Linked DNA regions of Homo sapiens: region 1 is linked to region 2. The links come from fine-mapping of genetic effects on gene expression. A gene starts in region 2. The other region holds a variant in brackets. All regions are shown on one strand. Distances are from middle to middle. Region 1 holds the start of LOC124903024 (a long non-coding RNA gene). Region 2 holds the start of TMEM116 (transmembrane protein 116).

Region 1 (5,376 bases), 480 kb before region 2:
GCCTGTAATCCCACCACTTTGGAAAGCTGAGACGGGAGGATCATTTGAGGTCAGGAGTTCGAGACCAGCCTGGCCAACGTAGTGAAACCCCACCTCTACTAAAAATACAAAAATTAGCCGGGTGTGATGGTGGGCACCTGTAATCCCAGCTACTGGGGAGGCCAAGGCAGGAGAATCACTTGAACCTGGGAGGTGGAGGTTGTAATGAGCCGAGATTGTGGCACTGCACTCCAGCCTTAGTGACAAACCAAGACTCTGTCTCAAAAAAAAAAAAAAGTAACTGAGATGTTGGATGCATTATTTAACTCAATTTTGATAATCATTTCACAAAGTATACATATATCAAAATATCATGGTGTACACTTTATATACAGTTTTTCTTTGTCACTTATACTTTTAAAAGCGGGGGAAAGGCAATGATGGAAACAGAAAATTGCCATTTGGCAAATACCACAGTAATAATTTTTTCAGGCAAGAATTTAATCAATGAATATAAAATTAGTAGGCAAAAAGTATTATGAGAGCCGGGCGCAGTGACTCACATCTGTAATCCCAGCACTTTGGGAGGCCAAGGCGGGCAGATCACAAGGTCAGGAGATCAAGACCATCCTGGCTAACACGGTGAGACCCCGTCTCTACTAAAAATACAAAAAATTAGCCAGGTGTGATGGCGGGCGCCTGTAGTCCCAACTACTTGGGAGGCTGAGGCAGGAGAATGGCGTCAACCCGGGAGGTGGAGCTTGCAGTGACCCGAGATTGCACCACTGCACTCCAGCCTGGGAGACGGTGCGAGACTCCATCTCAAAAAAAAAAAAAGTATTATGAGAAATAGGTAATTTACGCAGTCTCCAGTATCTACCCACAAGATATTAACTTAAAAGGGAAAAATAATAACTTTATGGACAAGAGATTAACTTAAAAGGGAAAAATACTTTGTTCCTAAAAAAAAAATGTAGCAAAAATACTACTTTTTGCTACATTTTTTGCTACGCCTGTAGTCCCAGCTACGTTTTGCTCAAGTAACTTTACGGTGGACAAATTTGACAGACACCACCTTATTCAAGTGATCAAAGTTAACACCACTAGTAATGAATCAGATCAACAGTGTGTACCTGATGTGATGTACTAAGAAGACTACAACAACATTTCTGTGACAGTCCTGCCAAAAATGCATGACTAGAATATAGTCAAGAGAAAACACTGGACAAATCCAAACTGAAAGGCATTCTGCTAAATAGCTGGCCTAAACTCTTCAAAAACATCCAGGTCATGAAAAATAAAGAATGACTGAGAAACTGTTCCAGATTAAAGAGACTAAACATACTAATAACTGGCCAGGTGTGGTGACTCACGCCTGTAATCCCAGCACTTTGGGAGGCCAAGGCGGGAGGGTCACTTGAGCCCAGGAGTTCAAGGCCAGCCGGGGCAACACGGCGAAGCTCCATCTCTACAAAAAATACAAAACTTAGCCAGGCATGGTGGTGCACACCTGTGGTCTCCAGCTACTCGAGAGGCTGAGGTGGGAGGATCACCTGAGCCCAAGGAGGTCAAGGCTGCCGTGAGCCATAATTGCACCACTGCACTCCAACCTGGGCAACAAAGTGAGACCCTGTCTCAAAAAAAGAGAAAAAAGATACATTATAGCCAAATGCACTGTGTGACCCTGGACCCATAAAAGATACTAGCAGGACAAAATTTGAAGATGGTCTGTAGGTTAGATAATAGTGTTATATCAATGTTAGTTTCCTGATTTTGATCACTGTATCAAATAATTGTGACATTGGTTATGTAAGAGAATGCCCTTATTTTTAGAAAATATACACATTTTAGAATGTGTAGGCTTAGATTATTCATTTTTTAAAATGAAATGATATTTAGAGACAAAGGGGTATAAATGTTTGTAACCAACAAACATTTTACTTTTTAAAATTTACATTTTTAATTTTAAACAGAGAGAATAAACGAATGATAAAGTTAAGTGTGCTAAAAAGTTAACAGTCAGGAAAGCTGGGTAAAGAAAATTCCACAGACTGCTTTTGCAAATTTGAGGGTTTTTTTTTTTTTTTCACTACTGTAGTTGGAAGTTAACAAAAAAGTCTACCTCCAAGGAACTGGCAGAGTGTGAGAACTGTTTATAAAAACTTGAGAATTTTCTCAATCTTGCTTCGTTTGCACTTTCCCCTGGATTCCCACATCTGATTTTATATTCTTCCTTCCTTGTGCTGTTTCTTCTCTTCCTTCTCCACAGCTCTTCACCCATCATTCCTTTTTTTCACTGATCCTTCTTTAGCAAATTCTTTCACTCCCAAAGGTCCTGAACACTTCATAATTTTAGAAATGACTGTATTTTAGAATAACCAATTATCCTGAATGAGTTTTGTTCTTTTGCTTCATTTATAAATCAGCTGGGTTTAATGTTATGTCTGCCATTTAAACTTTCTACTAAATTAAGTACTTCTTACTTTACCACAATCAGCCAGCAAGCCAGTTCCCAGATTGATTCAAACCACACAACGCAGAAAACTATATATTGCAGGATTTCATTT[T/C]TTAAAATAAATAATTGAAGCCTACACATTTTTAAAACCCAGAGGTCACTGGGCTCAGTGGCTCACACTTGTAATCCCAGCACTTTGGAAACCCAAAGTGGGAGGGTTGTTTGAGCCCAGGAGTTCAAGACTAGCCTGGGCAACACAGTGAGACCTTGTCTCTACAAAATAAAGATAAAAAAATTAGCCGGGCATGGAGCCACAAATTTGTAGTCCTAACTACTCAGAGAGGCTGAGGCAGAAGCACTGCTTGAGCCTAGGAATTCGAGACTAGCCTGGGCAACATGGCGAAACTGTGACACTACAAAAAATGCGAAAATTAGCTAGGTGTGGTGGCGCATGCCTATAGTCCCAGCTACTTGGGAGGCTGAGGTGGGAGGATCGCTTAAGCCTGGGAGATTGAGGCTGCAGTGAGCCATGATTACACCACTGCACTCCAGCCTGGGCAACAGAGAGAGACCTCTCTCTCAAAAAAAAAAAAAAAAAAAGACATCCCTGAACATGCTCCAACTTGTAGCAACTATGTTACATTCTCTTTGTATTTACTAGGAGATCCTTCTCTTTGGGCAACTTTTTGCCTAACTATTCTTGAGCCAAATTAAGTATAATGGAAGACAGATATAAAATAAAGTAACCGTCTAAATATTTCATATCAGTTAATACAAATTCAGATTTAAAGCACTGAGGTTCAAATTTTGACCTTACATTTCTATACATACACTGTTTCTGAAGATGTCTATGTACAATAAAACAATCCCGTATGTCTGTGCGGACTGAAAACCTACTAAACTAATTAGCAAGTACCTTCCTTTGGCCAACCAAACTTTGATAACGTGGCTGCTGTTCTGCTAGGCTAGAAATCTTTCAAATACTGGTGGCAGGTCCCATTCTGAAAAGAGCTCAGCATTTGGAGAAGCTGAGTTCTCTGGAAGGCAACGAGCAGAGTAATGCAGGCACTCGCCACTGATGTTTAGACACCACCCCATCTGCAGCATGGCAATGGGGTTGAGGGGTTGGGGAGAGAAGCACAGCCCCCAAAAGAGCAGCTCTCCTCATTTCCTTCATCTCAGCATATTCCTAATTAACTCAGCTTTGTGCCTGTTATGAATAGCTTCAGATGGAAAGGCTCCAATTCCACATTCCTCTTCATTATGCACAGCTTATTAAAATTGAAATTTCACTGTTTCCAACTCGACCAAATTAGTGGTTCAAACTGCCGTGCGCTATTAAGAGTGAGGCATTCGTTTTAAAGGATGGAATCAGGATAAACATGGCCTGGATCAAGGCTGGAACAGGCTAGAAACTTCAAGGCTTTGAGTTTTACGCTTGCCACATGAGCCTGAGAACATCAGAACCTTTCTGCATGGCAGTTCTTCAATCTGGCAGGCCAGGCTGATAGGATGGTGCCCTTCCCTAAGCTCCTCTGCAGTGAAAAATCAGAGCTGAGAAGTGGAGAATAATTGACAGTTTCCAGAGGCCCTTTTAGTTGGGAGTTTGTTTCCCATTCCGAAATCAAACAGTTGTCTATCAGAGCCTGTCCTCCTGCTCAAAAGGAGAGCGTATCCAAGAGGCCTAGCAAGAGAATGAGAATCCGCATGCCAGCCCTCAGGCTGGTACCTGCTCTTCTTCAATCCTGCGCTGTAGTGTTTCAATATAATGCTGGACCGCCATATAGATAAATCGGTACTGTGCTTCTGTCTGGACCATCCCTGACCTCTGAGACCGCACCATCTGGATGGTTTTGGGAACGTCAATATCGCAGTCAACACCTACGAAGGAAACATCATGAAGAATAAAGAGAAACTGCAGAGCCAGGATGAAGTTGTTTAATGCACAACTTTTAGTGGACTCAGAGACAATGCTAATTTAGTCTTTGCTGTTTTAACTGAGCATGTTGCAATGGCTACAGTGTTGAACTTCTGACCAATACCAATGATCCCAGAAGACTACATAAATAACGAAGTGGCAGAAGTCAGGATTCCCTCACTTGCCAACAAATCACCCCATACTGTAAACAAGGTCAGGTGGCTGGATAGAGACCACCACTGTGTATGCAACAAAAGGCCATGGCAGTGGGTTCTGCAGCTCCTAGACTTCATTTTATGCCAAAAGCTCAAATAGTGTCACTTCTGTTCTCAGGCAGACACACTGAAGTCTTCAGCCCAGATTTTTGTGAAAGAATTTTCCCATTCAACCTCTCTTCCCCAGACTGTTTTCGTGAGCACTTTCCTTCCATAAACTAAAAACAGAAACTGTCGCTTCTTGCCCACCAGATGACCCACCTTTCTCTCTGATGATGTCAATAAGAATATCAATCACAATGAACGTCCCTGTCCGGCCAATTCCAGCACTGCGGGCAGAAGGACAAAAAGCAGGGACAACAGAATCATTCATGGGGGTTTCAGACTCAAAACCAAGCCATTAATATCAACAGAAACAATGTCTACTCTTTGGAGCTATTTATAAAATTGTCTATTTATGTTTGAAAATATGTTGGCAAAAAGCATAGGGCTTTGGAGTCAGCCCAAACCTGCTCTTGGAGTTCAGCTTCTCCAGTACAACGTGCCTGAGGTAAGTCCCTTAACCTCTCTGACCCTTAATTTCTGCATCTGTGAAATGGGGACAACAGCACATACCATACAGAGTGCTGGTTGGACAGAATGAAACAGGAATCATATACAAAAAAATACATCAAAATTACTGAAAGAGGGCCGGGCGCAGTGGCTCTCACCTATAATACCAGCACTTTGGGAGGCCGAGGCAGGAGGATCACTTGGGGCCAGGAGTTCCAGACCAGCCTGGCCAACATAGCAAAACCTCGTCTCTACTA
Region 2 (5,376 bases):
ATGAGCACATAATATTCCAGTGAGAGAGAAAGATGGCAAAATAGATTTTTAAAAAATCAGTGATGAGTGCTGTATGGAGAAATAAAACAGATTAATGTGACTGGCACTTTAGACTGGGGGGAAGATAAATCAAGGAAGAACTCTAAGGAGGAAACACTTAACCTAAGCCCGAATGATGAGAAGTAACTAACTAGCCTTTCAAAGTTTGGGCAGAGAATATTCCAGTCACAAGGAACAACTAGTGCAACATATCCTAAGGCAGTAAAGAGCAAGGAATATTCAAAAGACAGTAGGAGAATGGTTGGGAGATGAGAGGGAAGCCAGGAGTCAGGTCATATAGAACTTAGGCTACTGTGTGGAGACTCAAGAGTGGAAGCAGGGAGACCAGAGAAGAGGCTATTGTAATGTTGACCTAGACTAGGGTGGTAATAGTAGAAAACACTGTTAGCTTTATGGCGCAAAGTTTCCCTTTGGGTCACACTTGTTCTGTGATATTATCTGATTCCCATGGAGCAGGGTGGGGTAGGGGTGTCATTTTGCCAGTAAAGGCCCCCAAAGCATAGGGTGCTGTAGGGTGTGTCTGAGCATGCCTGACAACCAATCAGCCACACCTACACCATTTTTTTTTTTTTTGAGACAGAGTTTTGCTCTTGTTGCCCAGGCTGGAGTGTCATGGCATGATGACGGCTTACTGCAACCTCCACCTCCCAGGTTCAAGCAATTCTCCTGCCTCAGCCTCCCGAGTAGCTGGGATTACAGGCACCCGCCACCACGCCCAGCTAATTTTTGTATTTTTAGTAGAGACAGGGTTTCACCATGTTGGCCAGGCTGGTCTCCAACTCCTGACCTCAGGTGATCTACCTGCCTCAGCCTCCCAAAGTGCCGGGATTACAAGCATGAGCCACCGCACCCAGCCCACACTTTTTTTTTTTTTTTTGAGACGGAGTATTTGCTCTGTCGCCCAGGCTGGAGTGCAGTGGCGTGATCTTGGCTCACCGCAACCTCCGCCTCCTGGGTTCAAGCAATTCTCCTGTCTAAGCCTCCCGAGGAGCTGGGACTACAGGTGTCCACCACCACGCCCAGCTAATTTTTGTATTTTTAGTAGGGACGGGGTTTCACCTTGTTGGTCAGGCTGGTCTCAAACTCCTGACCTCAGGTGATCTACCCGCCTCAGCCTCCCAAAGTGCTGGGATTACAGGCGTGAGCCACTAAGCCCGGCCTACACTTTTAAATTCTTGAAACTTTGCCTTGAATGAGCTGCAAGTGCCAAATCCACGACAGGGAACGCTTGAAAATAGGAGACTTCAACCACTGGAGACAACTACTTCTTGGTTTCACTTCCCCACAATGAGTACAAAACCTGAAAATGAAATGACTGGCTCTCTCGCAACACTAAGCTTGCCCATCTCCTAGAGGAAGTTAAAAGCTGCTCGTGGGTGAAGACAGGTGCAAGAGGAGGGGACTGGGACTGCGGTGTTGCATTCAGCCACCATTTCCAACCGTCCATTTACTCAGGCCAGGATCCCTAATTCTGCAAAAATGGAAGGGGGGAAAGGCGGAGGTAGTGGCAAATTCTTCCATGCCTTGACCCAATTTTACTGATTTTGTTGCCAACCCCAAGATGTTTCCTACAACAGCTATCCCCAACCTTTTTGGCACCAAGAACTGGTTTCATGGAAGACAACTTTTCCACGGGGTTGGGTGGTTTCGACATGAACCTGTTTCGCCTCAGATCATCAGGCATTAGATTCTGATAAGAAGCACACAACCTGGATCCCTCACATGCGTAGTTCACAATAAAGGTCGTGCTCCTATGAGAATGTAATGCCGCAGCTGATGTAACAGGAGGCGGAGCTCAGGCTGTAGTGCTAGCTCGCCTGCCGCTCACCTCCTGCTGTGCGGCCCGGTTTCTAACAGGCCACCGACGGGCCTGGTGGTTGGGGACCCCTGCTTTACAGGGTGGCTGAACTGAAGCTTATTCTTCACGCTTGCACTATTCAAGATGTATGATATCTGATCATTGTTTGCACACTGCAAAGCAGGCTGCAATCCAACCCTGGGAAGAGGGGCGCGGACACGCAGGCTAACGCGCCTGCATTTCCCCCCGCCAACCCCTCCCAGCTTCCACAGCCGGGAGCCCGGTGGCGTCGACCTCGCACCGCCCTCCGGTTCTCCCACTTGGGACTCGAGGGTTGGATCTCGCCAGGCACCGCCCTCTCCCCACAGGTGAAGGGAAGGGGCACCCAGTTCCCTCGGCTGCATCTTTGCAAGGGTGGATGCAAGTATAAATGCTGCAAAAGCAAGGGTGCGCCGGGGCCCTGAAGCGTGCATGCCCGGTGGTCATAACATTCTCCGCTCAGAGTCCACTAGGCCTGTAGGACGCCGGGAAGCTCTGGGACCGTTGCTACAGACCACCTCCCGTCAGCTCCCGGAATCCAGCGTCTCCCCACGGGCGCGCGCTCTTCCGGGCGCCCCGGCGGCACCTGCGCGCGACGTCCCCCGCCCCGGTTACCTTGTAGAAAGTGACCGTATCCAGGGGAAGGGCGCCCTTGGTGTGCAGGCCGCTGCCGCCATGCGGAGCGGAGAGGAGCAGGAAGCCCAGGAGAAGGGGAAGCAGCGGGGAGAGAAATGCGGCGCGGGGCACAGCGGCAGCCATATCGCCGGGTTCCTGCAGAGGGAGGTAGGTAAGCGATAGTGGAGAACGCCCCGAGTCAGCGGTCACGTGACTGGGGGGGCGGACTCACGCGCGCTCACGTGGACACCCCAGGAGGCTCCCATCTGTCTAGGGTGAGAGGGTGGGGCCACGTGAGGGGCGGGGCGAGGGAGGGGAAGCTGCTGCGCACGCGTACTCGGCGAAGCTCGCGTAGGGCCTGGGTAAAAGGGCGGGGCCACGTTGCGGGCGGGAAAATGGGCTCCTGCGCGCGCGCACTCGCCGAGTCTTCCGGCGGGTCCGCCCAGTTCCGTTCCTGCTCCGCTTGAGGAGAAGCGCCAAGTGCGCATGGGGACGCTATAGCAATTCGTTTGCTGTCCTTCCTCTCCTTCGAAGATGACAAGGCCTACCATCGTTTCTTCCTGCCTTTGGGCCGTCAGGCAGTTGGTTGGGACCCGCTCCAACCCTCGGTCAGTCTATTAGTCAAGTTCAGCCGTTATTCTCAGTCAGGCTCCGTCACCACCCTGACCCAGGCGGGCAGTGGCTCCGCGGCTTCCCTGAGCTTTTTGGCCAGGCTTGGCGGTCAGTGTGGCAAGCAGGGCCCTCTTAGGCCCGATCTGAGGTGAGCGCCTCCCCTGGGAGACGCCAGGCTCCTGGGATCCGCCCAGCCAAGGCCCACCCTCCAGGAACCCCAGACGCAATTCTAATCATTCTGTTCCGCAGGTAGTCACTCGGTCCCTGGCTTGTGCCAGACTCTGGCTTTGCCTGCGGGGCTACGGAATAAGCAGAAACAAGACCGTTGTGTGCTGAAGGCACGCACTTTGTTGGGGGAGGAGGCGGCATAGGAATAATGATCTAAACAGTGCAGTGTAATTGCTGTAAAATATTATTCCGGCTGGGCGCGTTGACTCACGTCTGTAATCCCAGCACTTTGGGAGGCCGAGGCAGGTGGATTACCTGAGGTCAGGAGTTCGAGACCAGCCTGGCCAACATGGTGAAACCCCGTTTCTACTAAAAATCAGGCGAGTGTGGTGGTGCGTGCCTGTAATCCCAGCTACTCAAGAGGCTGAGGCAGGAGAATTGCATGAACCCAGGAGGCGGAAGTTGGGGTGAGCCGAGATTTCGCCATTGCACTTCAGCCTAGGTGACAGAGCGAGACTCAGTCTCAAAAAGAAAAAAAAAGACCGTATTTTCTTATTGTAAAGAGACAGAGATTCAGCCATCCCTGCTCAGGAGCATCAGAGGAAGTTGTAGACAGGAGGTGACTTTTGAGCTGGACCTTGAAATAAGAGGGGGCGTGCATGAGGCAAAGAGAAACAGGGCATTTCTAACAATGGGAAAATTATGCACAGGCATGTTGGGGAACTGGTTGAGATGAATCTATGTAAAGGCGAACTGGCGCAACAGCTGCTGCCGCTCTTTTTTATTTTGATTGATTATTACTGAGCTTCCATGGGGCGGATTCGAAAGGGTCTCACCAAGCTAAAGGGTTTGGAGTCACCAGAAGTTTTAACTAGGAGAGTGAGGTTAGATTTGTGTGTAGAAACAGCACCCAGGTCAGCCTGGGCAACGTAATGAAACCTCGTCTCTACAATAAGTAGAAAAATTAGCCATGTGTGGTAGTGCATGCCTGTGGTCCCAGGTACTTGGGAGGCTGAGGCAGCAGGATCACTTGGACCTGAGGGGTCGAGGCTGCAGTCAGCCCTGATTGCTGCCACTGCACTCCAGTCTGGGCAACAGAGAAGACTGTCTCAAAACAAAAACAACATTACTCAGGAATGAAGGAAATGGATTGGAATTGAGAAGACGGGACTAAAGCCAATTAATGGGGTATGGCAATAGTCTAGTTGGAAGAGGTTAAGGTCATGCAGTAGGACATAATAGGGCTGAAGAAGTATGGATGGAATTGACAAACTTTTAAAGGGTAGAATTCACAAGATTTGATGAACAAATGCATGTAAGAGAACATATACAATGCATTGTAAGGGACTTACTGCTATAATTAACCATTGTATGTTTCCAAAATGTATGTGTATAAATAGTCAACAGTGATAACAGGATCCAATCATGGACAACCAGTTTGATTGGATATAAATTTTGAAAGAAAGTGTGTGTGTGTTTGTGTGTGTGTATGTGTGAATGTGTCTGGGGAAGTTAAGAAAAATTTTGAGTTTGCCCTATTGATGGCAGCCAGCTGCAGCAGGGAGGTGTGACTGGGGCTGCACACTCCATGGAGCCTGTGGGAGCCCCGCCCCTTCTGAGTTGAGGCAGGAGCCCCTGGTGCCATTGTGGCTGCCCTCCCAGGTGCAGGACCTGGGCATCTCTGCAGCCTGCACCCTTGGGGGACCAGCAAGACACCCTACTGCAATCCCTGCAGGCTCAGGAGTGTCTGTTCCCACCGCCTGGACTCTCTCTACTCCCGGGGCCTGCTCCAATCTCAGAGCGGGCTTGGGGCCAAGAATGGCAATGGGAGGCAGATTGATTCCAGGGTAGAAGTGGGTGAGTCCCCAGTAAGACCCCACCTTCAGGTCAGGGAGGGCCTGAAGACAGGGGTCCAGGCTGCCAGTCCTGCAGACTGGAGTAGGGACTCGTGGTGCATCTTCTGGCCTGCCCATGGACCAATCGGCATGTACTTCCTCCCCTCGGAGGTCCATAAAAACCCTGGGTTCAGCCAGAGTAGGGCAGAGGACTGCCAGAGGACCAAGAGGGCAGAGACCTATGGGTCA

What was found. PIP is the estimated chance that this variant, and not a neighbour inherited with it, causes the effect.
Region 1: its variant is the best candidate, but not a certain one, in a credible set for the expression of TMEM116 in fibroblasts (GTEx, PIP 0.58).

Annotation. Positions count from the first base shown.
Region 1 is chr12:112,487,963-112,493,338 of GRCh38, reverse strand. It overlaps PTPN11 (protein tyrosine phosphatase non-receptor type 11), which reads right to left. Exons shown (of 16, transcript NM_002834.5): 12 at 4,829-4,896; 13 at 4,164-4,315. It overlaps LOC124903024 (a long non-coding RNA gene), which reads right to left and starts at 4,155. Exons shown (of 2, transcript XR_007063467.1): 1 at 3,351-4,155; 2 at 1,915-2,321. The variant T/C (reference allele first, on the strand shown) is at 2,547.
Region 2 is chr12:112,010,746-112,016,121 of GRCh38, reverse strand. It overlaps TMEM116 (transmembrane protein 116), which reads left to right and starts at 2,957. Exons shown (of 11, transcript NM_001193531.2): 1 at 2,957-3,120. ERP29 (endoplasmic reticulum protein 29) reads right to left here and starts at 2,696. Exons shown (of 3, transcript NM_006817.4): 1 at 2,513-2,696. The coding sequence starts at 2,656. RefSeq lists enhancers at 1,223-1,362, 3,033-3,222, 3,093-3,981, 4,486-4,999 and silencers at 2,363-2,452, 2,793-2,872.